7 linked regions of the Homo sapiens genome follow. The protein of the gene in region 1 interacts with the protein of each later gene in a pairwise test. Each region holds a gene or a part of one and is shown in the gene's direction. Other genes may lie near its edges. The genes, in order: HMBOX1, FAM13C, FRMD6, GNL3L, ZBTB26, FGF11 and ZMYM5.

The links.
Region 2: the proteins of HMBOX1 (region 1) and FAM13C interact in binary tests that used the Homo sapiens proteins (3 or more experiments, as listed by UniProt).
Region 3: the proteins of HMBOX1 (region 1) and FRMD6 interact in binary tests that used the Homo sapiens proteins (3 or more experiments, as listed by UniProt).
Region 4: the proteins of HMBOX1 (region 1) and GNL3L interact in binary tests that used the Homo sapiens proteins (3 or more experiments, as listed by UniProt).
Region 5: the proteins of HMBOX1 (region 1) and ZBTB26 interact in binary tests that used the Homo sapiens proteins (3 or more experiments, as listed by UniProt).
Region 6: the proteins of HMBOX1 (region 1) and FGF11 interact in binary tests that used the Homo sapiens proteins (3 or more experiments, as listed by UniProt).
Region 7: the proteins of HMBOX1 (region 1) and ZMYM5 interact in binary tests that used the Homo sapiens proteins (3 or more experiments, as listed by UniProt).

What each region holds. Positions count from the first base shown.
Region 1 is NC_000008.11:28,896,895-28,900,394, forward strand, and holds part of HMBOX1 (homeobox-containing protein 1), read left to right. Parts: intron 1-3,500. UniProt on the Homo sapiens protein: Binds directly to 5'-TTAGGG-3' repeats in telomeric DNA. Associates with the telomerase complex at sites of active telomere processing and positively regulates telomere elongation.
Region 2 is NC_000010.11:59,247,550-59,251,049, reverse strand, and holds part of FAM13C (protein FAM13C), read left to right. Parts: intron 1-3,279; exon of another isoform or gene 3,280-3,312; coding exon 3,313-3,436; 3' UTR 3,437-3,500.
Region 3 is NC_000014.9:51,703,910-51,707,409, forward strand, and holds part of FRMD6 (FERM domain-containing protein 6), read left to right. Parts: intron 1-839; coding exon 840-1,026; intron 1,027-3,500.
Region 4 is NC_000023.11:54,547,219-54,550,718, forward strand, and holds part of GNL3L (guanine nucleotide-binding protein-like 3-like protein), read left to right. Parts: intron 1-1,010; coding exon 1,011-1,155; intron 1,156-3,500.
Region 5 is NC_000009.12:122,928,713-122,932,851, reverse strand, and holds the start of ZBTB26 (zinc finger and BTB domain-containing protein 26), read left to right. Parts: upstream 1-1,339; 5' UTR 1,340-1,415; intron 1,416-1,586; exon of another isoform or gene 1,587-1,788; intron 1,789-4,139. UniProt on the Homo sapiens protein: May be involved in transcriptional regulation.
Region 6 is NC_000017.11:7,438,178-7,442,311, forward strand, and holds the start of FGF11 (fibroblast growth factor 11), read left to right. Parts: upstream 1-1,334; 5' UTR 1,335-1,443; coding exon 1,444-1,636; intron 1,637-2,590; exon of another isoform or gene 2,591-2,639; intron 2,640-3,273; exon of another isoform or gene 3,274-3,277; coding exon of another isoform or gene 3,278-3,293; coding exon 3,294-3,404; intron 3,405-3,598; coding exon 3,599-3,702; intron 3,703-4,134.
Region 7 is NC_000013.11:19,832,650-19,836,149, reverse strand, and holds part of ZMYM5 (zinc finger MYM-type protein 5), read left to right. Parts: intron 1-460; coding exon 461-673; intron 674-3,500. UniProt on the Homo sapiens protein: Functions as a transcriptional regulator.

The sequences.
Region 1 (3,500 bases):
TTAAAAGTTTATTTTTTAGATGAACCTGACATTGCAAACATACCAATTTTTTTTTTTGTTATGAGAATCTGAATATTGGCTAGGTTTTTTTTTTTTTTCTTTTTTTTGAGATGGAGTTTCGCTCTTGTTACCCAGGCTGGAGTACAATGGCGCGATGTCATCTCACCGCAACTTCTGCCACCCAGGTTCAAGTGATTCTCCTGCCTCAGCCTTCCTGAGTAGCTGGGATTATGGGCATGCGCCACCATGCCCGGCTAATTTTGTAGTTTTAATAGAGACGGGGTTTCTCCATGTTGGTCATGCTGGTCTCGAATCCCCCCTCAGGTGATCCACCCGCCTTGGCCTCCCAAAGTGCTGGGATTACAGGCGTAAGCCACTGGTCGGCTAGTTTTTTTTTTTTAAATGAGGAATTATAATATTAGGACCCATTAAAATTTTCTGGTAAAAGTTAACGATAACATTGAAATTGTCCACAAATAAAATGTGTAAGATTTAAATGAGGCTGGGCGTGGTGGCTCATGCCGGTAATCCCGGCACTTTGGGAGGCCAAGGCAGATGGATCATGAGGTCAGGAGTTCAAGACCAGCCTGACCAACATGGTGAAACTTTGCCTCTACTAAAAATACAAAAATATAGCCGGGCGTGGTGGCACACACCTGTACTCCCAGCTACTCAGGAGGCTGAGGCAGGAGAATCACTTGAACCTGGGAGGCGGAGGTTGCAGTGAGCCAAGGTGGCGCCACTGCACACCAGATTGGGCAACAGAGCGAGACTCTATCTCAAACAAACAAACAAAAAAAGATTTAAATTTTAAATAAATTCAAGGCTTACATGGTATGTTTGTTGCTAGAGAGGATATGTTAGAATCTGTGTTAGATAACCAAAATTACAGCTATTTTGACATTAGTTTGGTTTTGACAGTGTTAATGCAAACTTGTCAGATTAATTGATTGTCAGCATATGTCATAGTTTTATTTTGTACTTGTTGCAAGGGAACTAGCTTTAAAGGAAGTTAGTTCAAAGATATTTTCAGAAAAAGGATCTTTACAGAATAAAAGGGGAGGTTATGGTTACTATTTTTGTTAGGTACAAGTTAAAGGATAGTTACAGGGTTGGTTATACTTTGCTGCCCCTTAATCAGCCATATGATTATAAAGCCTGTCTTAAAAGATGAGGCTGTTAATCCAATATACTATCGATTATTACAGACAACAACGGAAGTCTGCTTTAAACAGGCTAACAAAATATTTTCAAATGTATTAACAAATAAAGGTAGATCACCTGATTTTTGTCTTCTCTGGGTTTGAGACAATTTTTCATTTGTCAATACTGTGATAATTTCTATTAAAAAAAGACAAAGTTTAATTTGTTTCATTAGCAGGAATATGACAAATATTGATGGTACTTCCTGATAAATAAGATTCATATTTACAAAGCTTTTTGGCTACCTGTGATTTCAGTTTTTTCCTGGTAGAATTATTTTTTCCTCCTTGGATTTATGTTTCTAGCTTTCTATTTGTCTTGGTGTACGTACTAAAAAATAATGCTTGAATTAGGGATCATTTGGCTTCAAGGACAGGCGTTGTAGGGATTCAGCTGTTTTGGGTTGAAGAAGAGTGACTAGACCTTGTGTGAATGGGAGAAACGTTAGGAATCTGAGAAGCTAGTCTCTCAAGCTCTCGTTCTGGTGATAAATGGTTTCTTGTCTCAGCATCTCCTTCCATGTCTGCTTCATCTCCCTTTCTCACTTCTCCCTTCCAGTTCTGTTTGTATTGCCCTGGTTTTTCATAGTCTCTGCTTCTCTGACTGGTAAGTGGATTTGATTTGCCATGGTGTTGACTTGAACTGTTCTTTCAACTAGAGTTTACCTGTTGATGGTGACAGTGTGTTTCTTTTAGTTCAGTTGGCAAGAGAGAAATCTGAATGCATTGCATGACCACCATGACTTAAATGTCTATCCTTATCCCGTGACCTTGGTGGGAGGTAGCGTGGAAAGCACCTTTTATATGAGGCTTAAGCTTTTAGATGCTTTTTATGAGGAGGGTTCTCTTGTTGGTGTTGAACAAGGCACTCAGTTAAACATGTCAAGTCTAGCAGTGCGTGATGAGGTACTTTGTGGGATACAAAGATAGGTTGGATTTAATCCTTTTCTGCAAGGATCAGTTTGCTGGAAATAGCAAAAGACTCCTATAATTTAAGATTTGCTTTTTATTCTAGTCACCTCAGGCAAACCAGAAAGATGACAAAGTAGGACTATAAGAACTAGCTAGGATTAAGGAAGGAGAATGAGAGGTAGCCCTGGATACATGAACGTACTATCTCTACAGTTTGGATCACTAACCTACTAAGCATGAAAGTATCTAGAAGCCATTGTATCAGGATCCTCATTGCTGCTATCAAAGACTATCCCTTATTGAATAAAGAAGCTCTTATTCATATCAAGTAGACATTCTTTTGTCCCATCATTAAGATCTAGAGACATCTTAGGAGAACTCATTTCATCACTACTCTAGGAACTGGAACATTCTCATAGGCACCCTCTATCTATATAGTGACAACTGTTCTCTTAGCAAATGTCATTCATCCCTGACAAGAAAATTTGTGCCTTCTTTCTTTAGAGACAATAAGCAGGAATTCAAATAGTTGAGTCTGTAGTAGTGAGCATCTTGTTCTCTGCAGATCTGGCAACAAAAGAATTGACATACTGGGTCAATCCAATGTCCAGTCAACACCATAGGTGATATTTAACAAAAGCTCCATGATTTCAGGGAAAGGAACTGGAGCTTTTTATTCCTATGTCAGTATTGGAGTTTATATGGACTTCAGAGCTAAAATTTCCATATCCAAGTCTTTATTATATTACCAAACCAGGGCCAAGATTTTTAGAAATAAGTACAAGTCAAGGATAGGCAACTAAGGAACCTAGAAGATTGGAGTCAGATTACAAAGCCACAGGAGATAAATAGTTGGGGAGTCACAGAGTTCTAAGCACTTAGGCTACAACAGAAGGAAACAGTGATCTCAACTTTTGTGTTGAAGAATTGCCTGGAAAAAGTATTAAAATTTTAGTTTCTGGCTGGGCGCAGTGGCTCACACCTGTAATCCCAGCACTTTGGGAGGCTGAGGTGGGCGGATCATGAGATCAGGAGTTCAAGACCAGCCTGGCCAACATGGTGAAACCCTGTTTCTATTAAAAATACTAAAACATTAGCTGGGCATCATGGCGCGCCTGTAATCCCAGCTACTCGGGAGGCTAAGGCAGGAGAATTGCTTGAACTGGGAACTGGGAGGCAGAGGTTGCAGTGAGCTGAGATTGCGCCACTGCACTCCAGCCTGGGCTACAGAGCAAGATTCCGTCTCAAAAAAAAAAAAAAAAAATATATATATATATATATATTTTGTTTCCTGAGTTCTACCCCCAGATTCCTAAAATCTGAGATGGGCCCAGGAATATATATCCTTCATAAGTATATCAGGTAATTCTAATTGGTATAGTCCTC
Region 2 (3,500 bases), on another chromosome or scaffold:
TATTTTTCTGTGTCAACCCAAGTCTCATTATACACTCTATTAGTTTCCTCCAATTTTTGGTGTATCATCAACAAAATTACATATATAATCAAGAGATAAGGTTATTGATCTAATTTGGAAGAGAGATAAATTGCTTAGCTATCTTGAACCTCAGTTCCCATTTTATGAGCTGAAATGGTTGGACTCCTGGGATACTTTGGGAAGCTACAGCTGTCATGTGGGATATCAATCTTTACAAAAATAAATAAATGAAGAGTGTAACTTTCCCAAAGCCACAAGTTATTAAGTAGATGAAATGAGATTAAACTCATTATTCAACTCATAAACTCATCATTAAACTCATCAGTGCTACATGGGCTCCTCTGTATTCCTCTCCATTTAGGTATTGTATTTGACTTTTCAGTTCAGCAGGTTGAGGGTTGTCCTGATGGAAAGGGACTATTTTCCAAAAGCACCTTGAAACTCTCATGCGTGGTCTACTTACCTCTTAGTCCCTGGCAGGTTTTCCATTTTAGCCTACCAGGGATATTCTTTAGGACTGGACCTATTGAGTGAAAAGCTTTTTGCATTCAGCCAATACAGATGTAACAACTTATTTTCTACTTACAATCTTCCTTTCCAGTTGATTGCTACAAGTCCAACTTACCTTTTTGGTGATGTTAAGTAATCTAGTGAGAAATGTTATGTGGCTCATAAATTTAGAATATAAAGCATTTGTTATTTTTTTCCTTTTCCATACTTTTTTCTTTTATAAAATGTTCATGTAACTTTCCTTGTAAAATATTCCTTGGAGTAGTAACTTTGTCTGTCTGGACTGTCTGCTCCTATTATACTTTGGGTAAATATGTGACTTGCACTATAAAGTTCCTGATCTCTGCCTCTTTTGGATTAAAGGTATTCTATGGGAATTTTTCATTCAGGGAAATATTTGTGGAGATGTTATCACATATTCTAAATCTAAACAGTCATTACATATGAGAAATGACACTTTAAGATGTGCGTACACTCTTTTCATAAATTTGAGTTCCCTGAATAAATTTATATTTTTTAGCAATTTGAACTCAGGAATCTATCGTAAGGGGTTTGAGAACTTCCCAGTGTGCTACTAGTCCTGCCTACTGGATCTGCAGTGTCACTTGGTGTGCTTTTTGTCATACATACAGGGAAGTTAGTTATGTTCTATGTATAGTGTTCCACTGCACCTATGAGTCTTAAACCCACTTCAGATAAGTCTGTATTTGTCTATGAAGTTTTATGCCCCCTTGTGATGATATATTTCAACTAAATGCACAAGTGATGATCTTTTACAACTAAAATCAAACAGTTGAATGGCTAGGAAATATGGACCTTAATTTTGTTTATCTAAGACATTTTATTGGGAAGGCCTAAGCATCCATAAGTTAAAATAACCATGCAAATGGATTACTAAAATGTTTAAGGCACTATAAATGTTCTTGGTAATATTTGCCATACAAGAGGCATGAGAATCATGCAGATATTACATTATTATTAATAATTATTAGCCTGGAAGTGTGCTAAGCACTTTAGTATGTTTTATATAATGGAGAAACTCCTTCAGGAAAGACTTGGCAAAACTTTTCATTCTTGTCAAAGCACTCTTTTTTTTTTTTTTTTTTTTTTCTTTTGAGACGGAGTCTCACTCTGTCACCTGGGCTGGAGTGCAGTGACGCGATCTCGGCTCACTGCAAGCTCCGCCTCCTGGGTTCACGCCATTCTCCTGCCTCAGCCTCCCAAGTAGCTGGGACTACAGGCGTACGCCACCACGCGTGGCTAAGTTTTTATATTTTTAGTAGAGACAGGGTTTCACCATGTTAGCCAGGATGGTCTCAATCTCCTGACCTTGTGATCCGCCCGCCTCGGCCTCTCAAAGTGCTGGGATTACAGGCGTGAGCCACTGTGCCCGGCCTCAAAGCACTCTTATTAGCCAAAATGGAATATGCAAAACTACGGAAAATTACATAATTGATTATTAATGTTTCTCTGTAATAATTAGACAATTTCTTTACTTAGATCTATTTATACAAATTAAGGTGGTATTCAGACATCCAGCCATGATAAGTTTGACTCATAACACAGAATGGAGGCAAAGATATATGTTATATAATTTAGACAACAGTTAAGAAGAATGCTGTCTATGGATTTGTATACTGTTCTGAGTTCTGTACTAGAAATTGCAGGGCAATAAATAGTGTTGAAATACAAGTAGATACTATATTCTTAATTTGTATAGATTAGCTTGTTTTTTATTTGGTAAGAGATAGAAATATCTCTTTATCACTACTGGGAAAAATAGAAGGGAGCTAAAGATAAAACATTAAATATATGCTATTTACCTGGTTTCAGCCATACTAACATTAGAGAATACTTGTGGTTATATTCAGTTGTAATTGTGGTGACTATATCTGTGTCCTCTACCCCTTGAATTTCAAAGTCGTGGGTGGAAATGTTTTCAAAACGATTGGCTATCTTATTAACCAAGAAAACAAGAGCCTTCTGAGACCCTGTCGCAATTTTTCCCTTTAGAAAACGTTTCCTGACAACATATTTTTGTGGGAAGGCAAATGGTTTTAACTCCTGATATTACCAAGTTATTCTTCCAAGTAAACAGCAAGAGTATGCTGCATATGTATAAAAATCTATGCATTGTTACATGTCTAGCCTTAGTAGAATTAGTGTACAGAAGAGAACCACCACAATTTAGACTCTTGTCAATTACTTCAATCAAGGAACAGCTCAGTGGTTCTACTATATATTAGCAGAGATAGGTATTATAATTACAAGAAAATCTGGAAACGTTTCAAGTTTGTAAGACAGACCCTAAATGCTTTTCTTGTTACCATAGGTTTATGTTATTTTTATAATGAAATTCCTGTAGTATTTTCAGGTTAATATTTTTAACAACTGTATTAGGGCTGATCATTTTGTACAGCTGTAGGGGTGTGGCAAATAATGGAAGAATGACTGGACAAAGAATGCCTTGAAAGTTCTGTTTCTTGTTTGTTTGCTTCTCCTTAGATCTTTTCACTGACCCCTTTGTTGTAAGTCTAAGCACTAGACCACATATTTGCAAAACACTTATGACATTCAAGTTTTCAAAGGTTACTATTATTTAGAAACTTAGTAACACATGGAAGAAGGAGTGAATGAAGGTGAAAGGGAAGGAAAAGAAGACATGATGCAAAAACCAAGTGGAGGCCGTTACAGTATACTTTCTCATGTATGAATTATAAAAGAATGTTTAAATAATGACTTGATTCATTGTGAACTAACAAATGTATTTTTGTTTTGCAGAAGTCCACAAAAGGAAGATAGGATACCAATGGCAGATGAGTATTATGAATATAAGCACATAAAAGCCAAACTGAGACTATTAGAGGTCCTCATCAGCAAGCAAGATGTGGCCAAAACTATTTGAGGTTCAGGAAATGTTATGATCACTTTCACCCATGATATAAAGTAAAGTTTATTTTCCTCTGCCA
Region 3 (3,500 bases), on another chromosome or scaffold:
TTACTTTGATCACAAAAGCATCCTATTTGCCAGTAAATATTTTTTGGAGCTTTTACCATGTTTTCCCCAGTCAGCATTTCTTAACGTATTTAATGATGACTGTATTTATTTCTGATCTCAAGAGATTGTAATGAGTGCTCTGTTAGTATTTCCTTTTGTGGGGAGTATAATAATTGTCGTGACATGTGCCTGTAAAAACATAACAGTAATGTAACATTCACTTCAAAAAAATCCCCAAAAAAAGATTTAAGGAAAGCATTCATTGCATTTCTTCTTGGAGAAGTTTAAAAAACGGAAAAGAAACCTTTGTTAAGCAAATTTTTTTCCAGAAGAGTATATATGCAAATACTTATAAAGGGCCTTAGAGTATTTGTAGTGTGTTCAGTTAAAAAATAATAAAAAGAACAGCAAAACACTGAAGCAGGATTGCTCCTCAGATTTTTCCTTATTTATGTCACGTGTGTAGCATCATTGTAGCAACATTAGTACAGACAACACATGTCTAGTTTCTATTCTAATACTTGTTCAGTGAAATATTTACCATTTTAGAGTGGAATGATTCAGACCTTTTTCTTCTCTGAATGAATCAAATGCTGTAAGCCTTAGGAAACGTTATTTTTATTGTCTGGATAGTCTGATTTGGGGTTCTGACCCCCTGCAACCTCAGTGAGGCAGCTATCAGATATTAGCTACAACCGCTTCCTTTTCAGTGAGGTGGGAGGGAGGAGCAGAAACAGAAGGGTTCCTGTCACCAGATGGAGAGAAGGATTTGGGTTCTGTTTACATGTCATTGGATTATTCCATCAAAATGTGAGTTCTGTTTTCTTTTATTTTTCTAGTGACAGAGCAGCAAGATACTATTATTACTGGCACCTGAGAAAACAAGTTCTTCATTCTCAGTGTGTGCTCCGAGAGGAGGCCTACTTCCTGCTGGCAGCCTTTGCCCTGCAGGCTGATCTTGGGAACTTCAAAAGGAATAAGCACTATGGAAAATACTTCGAGCCAGAGGCTTACTTCCCATCTTGGGTAAGCACTGTTTTCAAATTCGAAAGAGTGTTTTCTCTCGGGCATTTCTAGTTCGTAGTGTTGCTACTCATACTCTTTAAGAAATGGGAACACAGATGTTCTGTGGCCAAATTCTTTGTGATGCCCAGATATTTAATGCTTAAGAACGTGGTGCACATCATGTCTTCATGTACTTAGTCTGCTTATGGTGAGTGGGGTAGAGAATTGCCATCCATCCTGATAATACAGTGGAGCTTGGAATTTACCAGCCTCCTTTCAGCATTGACATGCCCTTGACCTTCTTGCCTACTCTTACCGAAGCAGTATTTTCTCCCTTTGAAGGCAGAAAAACATAACTCTTTAAAAAGTAAGATTATTCCTCGCTTTCCTTTGCTGCGAGAACAAGTATGTCAACTTCTGGCTCCGGCCTCCATGTCCTCCACTCTCGGGGAGGAACTAACCCCTTCTTTCAGCAAGAAAATGTGGGTTATTCCAACGTGAACTGTCTCAGCTGCGCTTTCTCCACTCCACCCTGTCTGTTTCTCTTCCCGTCCTTCCTCCATGTCTAGGCTGTATTTTCTGTCTCTCTTCTATATCATTAGCCCCTCCCCAAAGTAACTCTTCTTCAGTGAGAACATGCAAAACATGTTTGGTTCTCACCCACCCATCCTTGAGAAAGAAAGTGGGGAGGGAAAGAAGAGCTACTACTCTTGCCTTTCCTTCTCAGTAAAGCATCTTGAAGAGGTAGTGTGTATTTGATTTTTTCAGCTTCTTTACTTCCCACAAGTGTTCCTCAAGCCATTTCCATCTGCCTTCTTTCCCCATCAGTCCACTCATGGTGCTGCCTGTTAGGTTGCTTTATATCAATACAGTAAAGAAGTAAAAAATTAAATATGCACTACTTTTGCTTTATATTGACACCAGTTGCTTTATATTAACATATCCAGCAGACTCTTTTCACTAAATTTTGCTGCTGTACCTGACACTTAACTACTCACATCTTGGGAGATCTCATCCAAATTAATGCTTTTAACGATCACCTATGTGAAGGCAAGTCCCAAATCTGGTTTTTTCCCCTATATCCATAAGGTAGCTGTTTACCCATAGGCCGTTCAAACTCAAGATGTCCTAAATCAAATTCATTTTCTTGCCACCTCATTTCTACGTATTCCTACCTCTGAGTACGTGGGAGTCATACGGAACTCTGCCTTATCACCATTCCTTCTCCCTGTCCTGTCCCATCAACTGTAACACCTTGTAATGTCTGTGCTTGAATACCAATCACCCAGCTTAAGAAATAAAATTATCTTCTATTTTTATTGCCATTAGCCTTCCTAAATGTCCATTGCCTCCTCTCCCTGTCTTAGCTCCTGCTGTTTCTAGGTTCGTGTTCTCAGCAGCACTGTTGCAGAAACTTGTCCCTGCTTCGGTCTTTACTCCACAGCTTGCAGATGAGATGATTTTGCTTCTGACTTAAACTTTCAGGGCCTCCTCTGTCACCTGTGGAGTGAAGCTCAGGCTCCCATGCATAACCTAGAAACTCTCCAGATTATAGTCCCTGCCAGCCATTCCAGCTTCCTTTCTGGTTGTCCTGCACCTTGAACTTTAGGCTCTGGCAACATCCAGCCATTGGTGTGTCTCCATACTTACTGTGGTGTTTCATGCTTCAGGTCTTTCTTCTTGCAGTTCCTTTAGCCAGTGAAGCCCCTCTCTGTTTCACCTGGCTAACTCCTACTCATCCTCCGAGACTCAGCCCAGGTGTCGCTCCTTCTGGGCAGACCATCTAGGTGCCCAGTGCTCAAGAAGAACCTGGGAATAGTGTTTTACATCTTATTTTAAAATGATTTATTTCTTGCTCCCAGTAAACTGTTTCTTAGTGTGTTCTGAAAGACGGGCATAACCTTAACCTTTTCTATTTCATCAGCTCTTCATATTGAGGTACTCAGTAATTTTTTGTTGTGTGACTTAGAGTGCTTCATTTTTTTGGAGAGAAATCACAATGTCTGTCAAACTATTGCTGTCTGTAGCATGTTTGCATTCTCTGGTTGTCATCAGGTGCTCATTGAATATTGATTATTGAAATCCAGTTAGTATGCCAGGGCAACCAGTGTGCTGAGATATCAGTTTCCCCCACCCTTGGGATCACCAAAGCCATCTGCTTTAGTGCCCTTACAAATACTGTTTTCAGTGTGCTTTTGACCTGAAAAAAAGGTTGATAAATAACTGATTTAACTGATTACCATGTGAAAAGAACCTGGAAAGAAAAATCTGTGTAACTTGAGTTCTTAGCAGAACTTGACAACTGACTATTAATTCATCATATTTAATTCTCTGTAAAATATTCAATAGGAAGAAACAAAATGTCAATATAAAGACATTTTAAAACCAAAAAGTCTGTAATTTTTAAATTTTGATTATTTTAAGCACGACTCTTGCTCACATTGCATAATTCTTTCCATCTGTTAAGTTCCTTATGGAATCAGCTAAGACTTTAA
Region 4 (3,500 bases), on another chromosome or scaffold:
ACTCGTGACCTCAAGTGATCCGCCTGCCTTGGCCTCCCAAAGTGCTGGATTACAGGAATGAGCCACAGCACCCGGCCAGAAGCCACCTTTTCTAACAGCTGTATTTCATTTGTATTCCACTTTAAGGCTACAGCTTTTTAACCTGTTTCTTATTGATGGATATATAGGCTAATTCCAATTTTGTGATATTGGAAACAATGCTGTGGCTGGGCGTGGTGGCTCATGCCCGTAATCCCAGCACTTTGGGAGGCCAAGGTGGGCAGATTGCTTGATGCCAGGAGTTTGAGACCAGCCTGACCAACATGGCGAAACTCTGTCTTTACTAAAAATACAAAAGTTAGCCGGGTGTGGTGGTGCATGCCTGTAGTCCCAGCTACTTGGGATGTTGAGGCATGAGAATCGTTTGAACCCAGGAGGTGGAAGTTGCAGTGAGCCAAGGTTGTGCCACCACACTCCTGCCTGGGTGACAGAGTAAGACTCTGTCTCAAAGAAAAAAAGTAAGGGAAGAGGAGGGAGGGAATTCTGGGCAGAGGAAGTGGCATCAGGAGTAAAGGTTGGGATGGCTTTGTCCTGTGTGAGGAATTGAGGGAGGGTAGGCTGTGGGCCAGGCTCCCTCTCATCCCTGCGCAGGCAGGGAGGGTGGGCATCCCTGTTGTGCACACAGGGCACTGAGGCCTGGAGAAGGGAAGCAGGCTTTGCTGGACATAGGCCTGTGAGAAGTAGACCTGGAGCTCAAACCTGGCCTATTTAGAGCCAGGATGCCATCCTGCCACTGCCGAGGGAGGCAAGTGACATGTGTCGAAGCAGACGCAGGGGCAGAGGAGACTGGAGACACAAAGACAGTGGAGGGGAATGGGGAAATGACACGTGTTCAAGATCTGTGTGAGAAGCCTTCCGTTTCAGGCTGAGGAGCTCAGTGATCATAGGGAGGCCCTGAAAGTTGGAAATCTGGGCTCAGACCTCATCTGCCACCTGATGTCTCTTCTGTGATATTCAATTTTTTTTTCCAGAATCGTTGCAGTGTGCCAGTAGATCAGGCCTCTGAGTCACTGCTGAAAAGCAAAGCCTGCTTTGGAGCTGAAAACCTCATGAGGGTTCTGGGGAACTATTGCCGCCTTGGTGAAGTGCGCACCCACATTCGTGTGGGTGTTGTGGGTAAGACCTGCTGTGTGGTCATGGGGCTCAGGCTTCTTTCTTGAGCGGACACTTCGCTGGGGGAAAGGATCCTGGGAGCTTCATTGTCTTTTGCGGGGAGAGAGGAGTGGTTCAGGAGAAGGGTTTCGTGATTTGTAACTTGGATGGGTGGGCATCACTGCGTATTGAGTATTAGATTCATGGAGCAAATACAGGGTGCCAGGCTTGGACTTGGTACCATCTCATCCTATCAGAGCTATGGGAGGATGGGGTGACCGTCTACCTTTTACGGATGAGAATTCTGAGTGAGGCTCAGAGAAGGGCAAAGGGACTTTTGGAGCCCAGCCCTGTGCAAGACAAGGCAGAGCTGAGGATCAAAACCTGGGCCTTTCTGGAGCACAAGTTTCTGAGGGAGGGATGATGGGAATGGAGTAGGGAAATTGAGAGAGGCAGAGATAGATCACCAGAGAAAGAATGTGAAGCCACGTGAGAAAGACATTGGAGAGAGAGCTAGACACTGAGAAGGTATAGGTATGCATACCAGGATAGATACAGAAGAAGACACAGAGAACGCACTGGGAAGCCAGATGGCAGGATTGGTGGGGAATGGAAAGAGGAGACAGATTTACATGATGGAGGCATGTAAAGAGGGAGATACAATCAGAAACACCAAAAGGGACATAGAAACAGACATGCATACAGAGATCTGCCGAGGGAGACATAGGAAGGGTAGAGATAACCCATGTATGTAGAGAGGCAGACATGTTTTCTCAAAGAATGAGAGAGAAAAACATACTACAGGGATAGAGACAGATTCAGAGAGAGACATACATGGAAGCAGACTGGACAAGGCTGTAGATACAGAGGAACACATACACATAGCTCTTAAGTACACATACAGATCCACAAACACATACACAGACCCACGCTACAGACCCAGAGATCCAGAGGAGGCACATCTAGCGAGACAGAACCACAGTCAAAATGCATGTAGACCAAGCCCTTCCCACACACACCCACCCCAACGCTGCTCCCCCAACGCGCATAGAACCACAAGGAGGGCTGGATGTAGCAGCTCATTCATGCCTGTAGCCCCAGCACTTTGGGAGGCTGAGGCGCACAGATCACTTGAGGTCAGGAGTTTGAGACCAGCATGGCCAACATGGCGAAACCCCATGTCTACTAAAAATACAAAAATTAGATGTGTGTGGTGGCGGGCATTTGTAATCCCAGGTACTCGGGAGGCCGAGGCAGGAGAATCGCTTAAATCTGGGAGGTGGAGGTTACAGTGAGTTGAGGTTACAGTGAGTTGAGATCGTGCCACTGTTGAGATCCAGCCTGGGCAACAGAGCGAGACTCCGTCTCAAAAAAAAGAAGACACGCATGTGCCCACATACACTTTGACCCTCGAACATAATCACATACCTAGAGTTACAGAGGGACACAAATACCAGACATGTCACTATGAGGCAGGTATGTGTACCTGTACAGAGAGAAATAGAGACATACAGAGAGGAGGTTAAGGAGGCGCAGACAGGGAGAGAGTAGAAGAGACACCGTGAGACACATACAGAGAGGCATCCATGAAGTGACCAGCCCACAGAGATGAGGAGCATGGACAGAGGCTGACAGGAGTTGGCATGGAGGGAATTACAAATAGAGGCAGGATTGGTGGGGTGGAGAGAATCAGAGAGAAAAGAACAATGGCCAGAATGAGAGACAGACAAATTGGCAGAGAAAGAGGTGCTTAGATACAGAGACACAGAGAGAAACAAAGATAAGATAGAGAAAGAGACTGAGTGGGAGAGATACAAGAAAAGGAAAAAGTGGTGATACTGAGAATGGGAATGACCGAGAGAGAGAGAGAGAGAGAGAGAGAGAGATGTGTAGAGACTTCCATGCATGGTGATAATTTAGAATGAGAATGACCTAGAGAGAGGGAGGGGGGAGAGAGGTGTGCAGAGGCTTCATGCACGAGAGGTATACTTAGACATATACCTTTTTTTTCTTTAGGCAATCAGCTTTCTCGGGTTGAAACAAGCATATGCTTGAGACAATAGTACACACATGTAAATTGAGCACATACAGAAAGAGAACGGTGAGAATGAGGCCCAGTGAGGGGAAACACAAAGACATCCACAGGCTGAGAATGGCTGACAGATGCACAAACAGCAAAATACACACCTCAGGTAGACAGCTGCACAGAGAGACTGGCATCTGGAGATGACCTCCATCCCCATCCATGGAATGATACACCCAGACAGGTTGTTCTCTGTTTCTTAGACATTTCTCGATGTCCACCTTCTGTTGGATTGTGCCACTGAGGCCTTGCATTGAGGACCTCTGCCTGGCTGATTGTGAGTGGG
Region 5 (4,139 bases), on another chromosome or scaffold:
TGGGTCAAAGAAGAAATCAAGGTCAGGCACGGTGGCTCACACCTGTAATCCCAGCACTTTGGGAGGCCAAGGCGGGTGGATCACCTGAGGTCGGGAGTTCGACACCAGCCTGACCAACACGGAGAAACCACGTCTCCATATCTCTAAATATCAAATTAGCCCGGTGTGGTGGCGCATGCCTGTAATCCCAGCTACTTTAGAGACGGAGGCAGGAGAACCGCTTGAACCCAGGAGGCGGAGGTTGCGGTGAGCCGAGATCACACCATTGCACTCCAGCCTGGGCAACAAGAGCGAAACTCCATCTCAAAAAAAAGAAAAAAAAAGAAGAAGAAATCAAAAGGGAAATTAGAAAATACTTAGAAATGAATGAAAATAACACAACATACAAAAACTTATGAGCTGTAGTGAAAACAGTGATCAAAGTGAAATGTATAGTTGTAAATAACTACATTAAAAAGAGGGAAAGGCTGGGAGCAGTGGCTCACACATGTAATCCCAGCACTTTGGGAGGCTGAGGAGGGTGGATCACTTTAACTCCAGAGTTCAAGACCATCAAGTTTTACACTTACAAATGATTAAAGTAATAAACATTACGCATGTTTTACCTCAATAAAAAGCCCCTCACCACCACCAAAAACGAAAAGAATGGTCAAAAACCAGTAAACTGGATTGGCAAGGAAAAGAACTCTAGAAGGATCCTCAAGTTTTCCGGTCTGGATAGGAGATGAGATGAACTTGAGATCATTAAAAGGTACTTTCACATCAGGACAGCTGGAGATCTCGTCCATGTAGCTGCCTGGGTTGTGAATGGTCAGCATGAAGTAGGTAACGGAAGCCATGGGAGTGCAAGAGTTTGCCCTAGGAAGAACTCCAAGGCAAGAACCCTGAAAAACACATCCAAAAGTGAGGGGAGAGCTTTCTGCTCTTCGGGCTCCCGCGCGACGAGTCTACACCCCTAGGCTAAAAAGACTTACCAAAGTTTAAGTGCAGAGGAGCCCTTCAGGCCCAAGGAGGCAGCGGACCGTCTAGGCCCAGCTACAGAAGAGCCGCTGAGACGGGGGTCCCGAGCAGCGGGTCCCTGCGAGGCGCACAGGGCCTGAGCCACAGACGCTTACGAGCTAAGGCACCTCGGGGTAGTAGGCAGTGAAGCTAGTGCCCAGAGTACGGTGCCCTCCGTCTGCGCCCCGCCCACAACGCAGAAATTCCCTCTCGGGGCCCCTGTTGTCCTCCGAGCCTTCCGATTGGCGGAGAGGACCATGGGACCTGGAAGTTGTCTTTGTCCGGCCAGGGCTGCCCTTCCGGTTCCGTTGGGTCCCCCTTTGGCTCGGGTTCCTTGCCCCTCCCCCTTCCCGGAGCCCCGAGGGGCCGGAGCTCCTGGCGGTGCCGGATCCTGACGGCGGCCTTCCCCCGGGTCTGTAAGTGCGGAGACGGCCGGAGCGGCGGGCTGGGGTGCGGGGTGTCTCAAAATGGAACCCCCCTGGGGCCCTGGATCAACCGGGACCTGCACTGGGATGGGAGCCGAGAGGCTGGCCTAGGCCCCTGGGGACTTGAGGAGCCCTTGGCCCGGCCCACGCTGCGCCCCGCCCCTTTCCCTTCCCTGTGACTGGAGTGGGGAGCCTGAGGATGCCCCTGGGACCGCCTCATAGGACCCCAGCTGAGGGCCCAGCAGTTGGCTTGGGGGCCTGACTCTGGCATCTTATAAGAAGTGCCAGAGGTGAGGCCCTAAGAAAACGAGCCTCGGGAGCCAGCCCAAGACCAGGCATTCAGTGCCAGTCTTTGAGAACCACTGTGAGTGCTAGGTTACCCTTTTGCTGGGGTTTTCCCCTATTTGGCCACTGGTCGCAGCACCTTTTATATTACTGGCGCTATACCAGACACTGGAGATTGGCAAGATATTGTTCCAGTTTTCGGGATTAAGTTTGGGAGCCAGATCTGAACAAATAAGTACTCCTATGTGTATATATATGTATGTATGTATCAGTCACATATGTGTTAATTGCTCAAGGGGCCGTTGCTGAGAAGGCTTTAGAAAGAAAGTGATGTCTGAATTGTACTTGGAGAGAGTAAAGTGTTGAAGAGTTTTTCAGGGAAGACAGTTGCAATACTGTGGAGAAATGACTGAGCATAACTTGTGTGGGAAGAGGAGGAAATGGGGGGACTCCTATGCACAGAATGGATATGAGACTGGGAAAGTCGACCGAGGTCCAGATGGTGAATGGTGTAATCCTAAAGGAGATGGGTAGTTTTTTGAAGAGTTCGGAACAGAATATTGATATGGTCAGATTTGCACTGCAGGAAATCATTTTGTTCTGTAGAAAGCCCATAGAGAAGGGACTTTCTATTAACTGCATTTAGACATTTAGCTAAAAGTTAGGAACGCTTATCGGAGATTCTTTTGAAGGGGTAATGGGATCAGCCTAGTGAGAGGCAAAAAATTCCTGAAATAAGTTATAATGGTGTCATTGGTAAGGAGACAAATATACTGGAGATGATTATGTCAAGACTCCATAATTAACTGAATGCTGAAGAAGTGTGAGGGACCAAATCTAATTCTTAGGTTTTAGACCTCTGAGCTGAAGGATGGTAATGCCATTATCAGAAATAAAGCCATAAGCTTAGTGTAGATTATGAATTCATTTTTTGGACATGTTGAATTAAAGGTCTAATGAGACAGACACATAGAGCTGTCCAGCATGGAGTTGGAAATGCAAATCTTTAGCTCAGCCTAAACATTGTAGCTAGAGGTAAAAGTTTGAGTTATCAGCATAGAAGTGGAAACCATGGCAATAGCTGGCATCAGGAAGAGAATTTTGAAAAATAAGGAAATTTGGGGGGGGAGGGTAATGCTTGCATTTATGAAGCAGAAAGAGGAATTGGAGCTAGTAGTAGTCAGCAGTAGGCAATAAAGTGTAGGAGTGCAGGGTTACAGCAAGCAAGAAGACCCAGAAATCAAGAGAAGGGAATTTCGAGGAGAGACCACTGGATCAATTCATGCAGAGCATCTGGAGACTTGGGGGAGGGGAGAGTATTGCATTTCTTTATGAAGAGGTCATTAGTGACCTTTTAAAAAGCAATTTAGTACAGTGATGAGGTGATACTCTATGAAATATTAGGTACCTCAGCTGGTTTGGTGTTAAATGGGAATAAGGATAGGACACATTTAAAGCATTTCACAAAGAAAATTGACAGGCTTTATTTGTATACCTAACACATGCTTATAGGGTACATACCAGACACTGTTCTAAGCTCTTTAAAAAATTAAATCATTTATTTTCCATAACAACCCTATGAAATAAATTACTATTGATAGATGGGAATATTGAAGCAGAGTGGTTTGAGTTTACACAGAAAGTAGTTGAGCAGGGTTTTGATCCTAGGAAATACGGCTCCAGAGTCCATGGTTTTACCCACTGCTCTATGCAGTGACTGAATATAGGAGCCAAAGGAGTGGGAAACATTTAAGCAAAGAGAGGCTCATTGATAAGAATGGAGAGGCTTGGAAAGAGACCCAGGTTGAGAAGAAGGTAAGTAAAGGATTTATGTTTGATATGTTTTTTATTTCTTTCTTCCTAAGTCCGTTTCCACTCTCTGCCCATTTAGGTTAATTTCTTCCACTTTCATGCTTTCATTTATCACTTACCATCTGTAATCAGATCTTTTCTTCATATCCATCCAGCTCATGAATCCTCACCTTGATGTCATGCAGGCTTCTCTGGCTCAAGACCAGACTCATGATCATGCCCTCCAATATTCCCTGCTTTGCTGAATGACATTCATCAAAGATATCCAGTTACAGAAACCAAATATCTTGGAGTCATCTTGACCCTTTCCCCACATTGGTCACCAAGCCCATCAGTTCTTTGTTGGAAATGTCTCTCAAATCTGTTTCCCCTCTCCATCCATATTATTGTTGTCTCTCTTCAGGCCCATGCCATTCTGTCTTGATCTGTTTAGAGTAATCACATACTAAAATGCTTCCTTGTACTTTTCTCCAAGCCATTCTCCATAAGAAATTTTTTTGGCTTATTGAAGTTTAGACAGTGCATGAGTGCAGGCATCATGCATTTCAAGTGATAGGGAAATAGCCTAGAACAGGTATTTTTGAGTACCTTGAATTGAGATTTAGTTTGGTTAAGTTT
Region 6 (4,134 bases), on another chromosome or scaffold:
GGAACCCCGGGGTTCCTCCTGCCCGGCTTCACCCTCCTATTTCCCAGCGTCTCCGCCCCCTGCCCCGCCCCCGGGCCGGCTCTCCGAGGAGGGGGAACTGCTGTCGCCGCCGCCGCCGCCGCCTCAGCTTCCCACAGCCGCTGCCGCTGCCGCCGCTCTGCCTGGTCCAGCCACCGGCCCAGTGCTCTGACTTCGCCGGACCGGGGAGCTCTGCAGAGACACCCTCACTCCTTCCCGAGGGTCCGGGACGCCTAGCCGGGCGTGGGGGGAAGCTCCGTTTGCGGGGGACAGGGAGGGAGGAGCCTGGAGCCGAAGCCAGCGCCACCCGTCGCCGGATCAACAGGACAGGACAGGTTGAGGGGCGTCGGGAAAAGGAAGAGGGGGTGCTATAGGCAATCCCGGGGAGGACGAGGAAGCCCTGTAGCAGGAAGCTGTGATCCGCTCTGACTTGTAGGGGGCCTGTTCACATCTGGGGACTGGTGACAACGTGGGTGCACTCCTCTCTTGGGGGGCTGGTTAGATTGGAGGGCGTGGGATCTAAACAGCACCAGCTGTCCCCAAGAAAATTTAAGGGGCAGCCAGGGGAGAAAAAAACAAAAACAAAAACAAACACGGATGCTCCTCATTTTGAGGTGGCGGAAGGCCCTCCAGTCAACTACCTGGTGTATCCACTAGGAAGGGTGGATTTGGAGGTGACTTCAAAAGGAGCGGAGGGTGTGAAGGTGAAGAAAGGGTCTTGGCCGCTAGAATTCTATGCTACTAGACATGGGGGGGACTTGGTGAAAAAGGTATTATCCAGCCAGAGGGTCTGGGAGCCCTGTCTTACTGAACCTGGGCAACCTGGATATTCTGAGACATATTTTGGGGGGATTTCAGTGAAAAAAGTGGGGGATCCCCTCCATTTAGAGTGTAGCAAAGGAAAAAACACCAAGGTTGGGTTCCTTCCTGACATTGGCAGTGCCCCAGTAGGGGTGGGATGAGCGAATATTCCCAAAGCTAAAGTCCCACACCCTGTAGATTACAAGAGTGGATTTGGCAGGAGTGTGCCCCAAAATACAGTGGAAAGGTGCCTGAAGATATTTAAACCACGTCTTGGAAATTTAGTGGGTCTTGGCTTTGGGATAGGTGAAGTGAGGACAGACACTGGAGAGGAGGGAAAGGGGACGTTTTCAATAGGAGGCAAAACTCGAGGGTGGGATCCACTGAGGAGTACATAGGCTGCTGGATCTGGTGGAGCCAGCACTGGGCCCACGGGTGGTAACTGGCTGCTGTGGAGGGGGGTACGTGAGGGGGGGGGTCTGGGGCTTATCCTCAGGTCCTGTGGGTGGGGCAGCGAGTCGGGGCCTGAGCGTCAAGAGCATGCCCTAGTGAGCGGGCTCCTCTGGGGGAGCCCAGCGCGCTCCGGGCGCCTGCCGGTTTGGGGGTGTCTCCTCCCGGGGCGCTATGGCGGCGCTGGCCAGTAGCCTGATCCGGCAGAAGCGGGAGGTCCGCGAGCCCGGGGGCAGCCGGCCGGTGTCGGCGCAGCGGCGCGTGTGTCCCCGCGGCACCAAGTCCCTTTGCCAGAAGCAGCTCCTCATCCTGCTGTCCAAGGTGCGACTGTGCGGGGGGCGGCCCGCGCGGCCGGACCGCGGCCCGGGTGAGTGCGGCTGGGGCGGGGTCTCCCGGCCAGAGGTTTCTCTGCCTGGGAGATTGAGGCCAGGGACTCTGAAGAATAGGGCCCGGCTGAGGGGCTCCCCGAAAGTGGAAGGGGGTGGGCCAGGACGACAAAGTCCCTGCCAGACTGTGCCTCAGTTTCCCTTCTCTTTTGTCCATAACCCGGAGTCTCCTTATTTTCGAGGTCAAGGGGAAGGCTTGAGGGGCTGCCTGGCGCCCCGAAAGCCTCGTAGTTCCTGCTCGTCCCCCCTTCCCAACACAGCAGTCCCCACCCCCATCGTCCTCCGCCTACGTGCCGGTTCTCGCGATTCTTTCAATCTGGAGCGGAGGGGCCCGGGGGTTTCCAGATGCCTGGGTCACCCCAAGGATTTCTGCAGCTCCAGCCGCACGCCCCCCCCCAGCCCCCGCCTGCCCCGGTTCTCCCGCTCCTCCACGCCTGGGCTCGGTTCCTCCTGGTCGAGCTCTGCTGGCTCCGAGCCAATCTCCCCAGCTCTCCCTCGGGTGTCCTTGCAGCTACCTCGCCAGCCAGCCCTCTATGCGCCCTCCTCCTGTGACCTGCGCTTCAAGAACGGAGCTGGGCACCCCTCCCATAACCCCCGCGCCACTCCGAAATCGGGTCCCGTAGGCTCAGGGGACCCTACGCTGGCAGGAACTCAGACACAGTTCACGGCTAGAGATGGGCGCCGACTCGGGGGTCGTACCACCTACAAGGGGGGACAGGGAAGTCGGCAGAGAGCAAGCGATGGGGGAGGAGAGTTGTGAGAGTTAGAATTGGTCCCCGTCCATGTACGACAGTCAGGGAGTCCCTCTGGCCCTGCTCCCGCCCGCTCCCAGCTCCCCTAAGGGTAGCCACCTCGCGCCCTCCTCCCCGCGCCACCGGCTGCCCATAGTGGTACAATCCGCAGCCCACCCTCTGAGTAGGACCGGGCCCCCACGTGACTCAGCCTGCCTCTCCATCTCCTCAGCTCCCACCCCCCATATCCTTGGTAAGGTCCCCCTTACCCCAGGCGAGTTACCTGGCCGAAGGGGAGAGGCTGAGCCTCAGGGAGAACTGGGCCCCCGGGAGCCAGCGGACTGACAGACAGACAGACAGACAGACAGATGGGTCAGTGTCAGACAGGCCGGCGCTGGGCCAAGGCAAGGCTCTCGCCAAGCTAGCGGCAGCCGCAGCAGGTGCTGAGTCAGCGTCAGGCCCAGTCCCACCCCCACTCCTGAGGGAGAGCCCCTACCCTGTGGTCAATTTGCTGCTGCCAAGATCCCCCACCTTCGCAAACACGCTGCCCCTTCAGTACCCCTGCTGGTCTCCCTCTGTCCCTGCCTTTTGATATATCTCTCCCCTCCCTCCTCCCCCACTCCTTCCCCCTTCTGGTTGAGCTGTAGGGTAGGAATTAAGCCATTTAAATAAATTTCAATAAATTACACTGAAAGCTCCTGGTTATAGGAAACAGAAGGGACCCACACCAGCTTTCCCAGGAGTGAAAGAGAGGTGGGAGAGAGCGTGCTTGGAGGATAAGAGAGCTGGGGCCCTGGGACCCTCTTCCTTCCTTTCATTCTCCTTTCTTCCCTCTAATCCTGCCAAGTGTAGGAATGTTTCTGGGAACGGAGATGTCATTTTCAAAGATGAATGTCTCTCTCTCCAGAGCCTCAGCTCAAAGGCATCGTCACCAAACTGTTCTGCCGCCAGGGTTTCTACCTCCAGGCGAATCCCGACGGAAGCATCCAGGGCACCCCAGAGGATACCAGCTCCTTCAGTGAGAGGGGAAGCTGGCTGCAGGGTGGGAAGGGGGAGAATGGGGACAGGAGATGACAATCCTATTCCCTCTTCAGCTTCTGTTGCCATTGATCCGTCTTCCTGACCTCTAAGGGAAAAAGTGGAGCTGGGATGAGGGGAGCTCAGGTGAGGGTCAGAGGCCTGGGTATTGATGCTCCCTCTCTCCACCTGCAGCCCACTTCAACCTGATCCCTGTGGGCCTCCGTGTGGTCACCATCCAGAGCGCCAAGCTGGGTCACTACATGGCCATGAATGCTGAGGGACTGCTCTACAGTTCGGTGAGACAATGAGGCTGAGTGGCCGGGAAATACTGGGGACTCCCCTTCCTCAATTTGTCCCTTGAGGGAATGACAACCTTCCTCAACTACAGACATTTTGCCCGGGACTCCTCCCTCCAGCTTTGCTGATGGCCTGTCATCGCTGCCCATTCCAGACCAGCTCCTCTAGGGTCTCTCCAGTCCCCACTCCTTGCACACCCCCAAAACAGCCCCAGGTTCTTTGAATGTCCAACTCTTTCTGCCTTTTAGGGCCCCTACTTCTTATCCCACCTCCTCCAGATTTTGTCATTACTCACTTCCCTAGAGTCATCCAGGATAGGGGATAGTGAGAGACTGGGAGTACAGTGGAGAGAAGGAATCTTATTGCAAGACCCCTAAAAGTCTAGTTCTTTTTTTTTTTTTTAAATAGTGACAGGGTCTTGCTATGTTGGC
Region 7 (3,500 bases), on another chromosome or scaffold:
AATATGCTTTTTAAAAATCTTTTCCCAGCTAGGCATGGTGGCTCATGCCTGTAATCCCAGCATGTTGGGAGGCCAAGGCGGGCAGATCACTTGAGGTCAGGAGTTCGATACCAGCCTGGCCAACGTGGTGAAACCCCGTCTCTACTAAAAATAAAAAAATTAGCTGGGCGTGGTGGCGGGCGCCTGTAATCCCAGCTACTTGGGAGGCTGAGGCAGGAGAATCGCTTGAACATGGGAGGCAGAGGTTGCAGTGAGCCGAGATTGTGCCACTGCACTCCAGCCTGAGTGACAGAGTGAGACTCTATCTCAGAAAAAAAAAAAAATCTTTTCCCTGGGTATATCTTCCTCTGAGATATGATTAGGGATTCTTTGCTTCTATTGCAGAAACTAGTTATCTCATTGCTTGCTATGCTAATCTGGTTCATATATCTTAGTTAATGAATTCTGGTTTTTCTTTTAGATTCGCCATGAAGTCAGCGTAAATAATGTAACACATAAACTGTGCAGTAACCATTGCTTTAATAAGTACAGATTGGCCAATGGTCTAATAATGAACTGCTGTGAACACTGTGGAGAGTACATGCCTAGTAAGAGTACTGGAAACAACATCCTGGTGATTGGAGGTCAGCAGAAGAGATTTTGCTGCCAAAGTTGTATTAACGAATATAAACAGGTAATTCTTTTTCATGAGCTTTAAATGATCAAATATATAGTAGCTTCACCCTTACATCTTACATGAACCGGATTTATCTTAGAATCTCATTTAATTCCATTTTGCCATTCTGTCATTGGTTTGTCCCATCTCAAATATTCAAGTCTAAGATTGTTGTAAGCTTGTTTTAAAAATTTTCTTTGGGCTGGGTGCAGTGACTCACTTGTGTAATTCCATCATTTTGGGAGGCTGAGGTGGGAGGATTGCTTGAGCTCAGGAGCTTGAGACCATCCTGGGCAGCATAGTGAGACGTAATCTCTACTAAAAATTTTTTAGAATTAGCCGCAGGCATGATGGCATGTGCCTGTAGTCTCAGCTACTTTGGAAGCTGAGGTGTAAGTATTGCTTGAACCTGGGAGATTGAGGCTACAGTGAACTATGATTGTACCACTGCACTCCAACTAGGCAACAGAGCGAAAGCCTGTCTCAAAAAAAAAAAAAAAGAAAGAAAATGATCAGGCACAGTGGCTAACACTTGTAATCCCAGCACTTTGGCCAAGGCAGGCAGATCACTTGGGGCCAGGATTTTGAAACCAGACTGGGCAACATGACAAAACCCCCTGTCTACTAAAAATACAAAAATTAGCCAGGCGAGTTGGTGTGTGCCTGTAATCCCAGCTACTTGGGAAGCTGAGGCATAGGAATCACTTGAACCTGGTAGGCAGAGGTTGCAAACCCGAGATCATGCCACTGCATTCCAGCCGGGGTGACAGAGCAAGACTCTGTCTCAAAAAAAAGAAAAAGGTTACTCCTGGATGAATTTAAAAGACTAATTTTTCTTCTGTACCATTTAGCACTCCCACTAAGCACTTGATAATTCTAGTTGCTCTACATTCTGACCAAAATTTGGAGCCAGGTGAGGTGCTTCACGCCTGTAATCCCTGCACTTTGGGAGGCCCAGGTGGGAGAATCAGCTGAGGCCAGGAGTTCAAGACCGGCCTGGTCAACATAGCCAGACCCTGTCTCTACAAAAAAAAAAAAATTAAAATGTGGTAGTTGTCTGTTTTGTCTATCAGGTCTTCAGCCCATTTTTTATTGAATTCTTTTTGTTACTGAGTTGTAGGAGTCCTTGGTATTATTCTGGATACATGTATTTTATAAAATAAATATATTTGGAAAAAAATTTTTTTTCTTCTGTTTTTTTTTTAAAAGAAAAAATAGGCTGGACGTGGTGGCTCACGCCTGTAATCCCAGCACTTTGGGAGGCCAAGGCGGATGGATCACCTAAGGTCAGGAGTTGGAGACCAGCCTGACCAACGTGGCGAAACCCCGTCTCTACTAAATACAAAAAAAATAAGCCGGGCATGGTGGCTGGCACCTGTAATCCCAGCTACTCTGGAGGCTGAGGCAGGAGAATCGCTTGAACCTGGGAGGTGGAGGTTGCAGTGAGCGGAGATTGCGCCATTGCGCTCCAGCCTGGGCAGCAAGAGCAACGCTCTGTCTCAAAAAAAAGAAAAAGGAAATACAGGTGGGTCTCAATATGTTGCCCAGGCTGGTCTCGAACTCCTGGGTTCAAGCAGTACTCCCACCTCAGCTTCCCAAAGTACTGGGATTATAGGCATGAGCCATTGTGCCTGGCCGGAAGATTTTCTTTCAGACTGATTTGTCTTTTCATTTTCTTAATGTTTTGTTTTGTTTTCCTAATATTACTTTTGAAAAGTACAAGATTTTAATTTTTATAAGTCCTATTTATTATTTGCTTCTCTTGTGATTAATAGTTTTTGTGTATTTAAGGAATCTTTGCCCACCAAAATTACAAAGATATTTTCCTACATTTCCTTCTAGAATCTTTTCAGTTTTAGCTTTTATTTTTTAGGCCTGTGATTCATTTTGAATTAATTTTGTATATGGTGTTAGATGTGGGTTAAAGAATTATCAACTTCCTGACTTTAAGACATTAAAATGCTGCAATAATCAAGGCAGTATGGTTTGGTATATAAACAAATGGGCTAACAGAGATCAGTGAAATAGAAGATAGTCCAGAAATAGAACCACATAGTAGATTTTTCAAGAAGGTACCAAATTATTCTGATGGGAAAAACAAGATTTTTTAACAAATTATGCTGAAATAATTTTTTGTTTGTGTGGAAATAAATGAGCCTTGACCCCTTTTCATTGCATACACAAAAATTAAGATAGATCATAATGTAAAACTGGAAATATTCTTAACCCCCATTTCACTGGATGAGAATTTAATTGGTTAGCTTCAAGGGAAAGTAACCCTGAATTGCTAGGCTTTTATCGAACAGGAGAAACAGTGGATACCCATAGTTGACTTTTCTGTTTATTTTTGCAAGAAAACCTTATTTATGTTAAATTATTTTTTCTTTACATATATTGCACCTAATATTTAAGAAAGCTTTTGGTTTATAGAAGAACACAATGAACATTAACAAATAGAAAGGTCCAGGCACGGTGGTACGTGCCTGTAATCCTAGCACTTTGGGAGGCCAAGATGGGAGGATGGCACTAGTCCAGGAGTTGGAGACCAACGTGGGCAACATAGTAAGACCCCATCTCTACAAAACAATTTTTTTAATTAGCCAGATATGGTGGTTGTACACTCGTAGTTCTAGCTCCTCAGGAGACTGAGGTGAGTGAGCTATGATTGCACCATTACACTCCACCCTGGGCAACAGAATGAGACTATCTTTAACAAAACGAAATTTAAAAAGACTTAATATTGTTAAATTGTCTTTTCAAAGACAGTTACATGACAAAAGTAACCTACTGACCTTCTAATTTGGAAATAAAAACTATATTAAGTCTTAATATTTTCCAAGCCTTT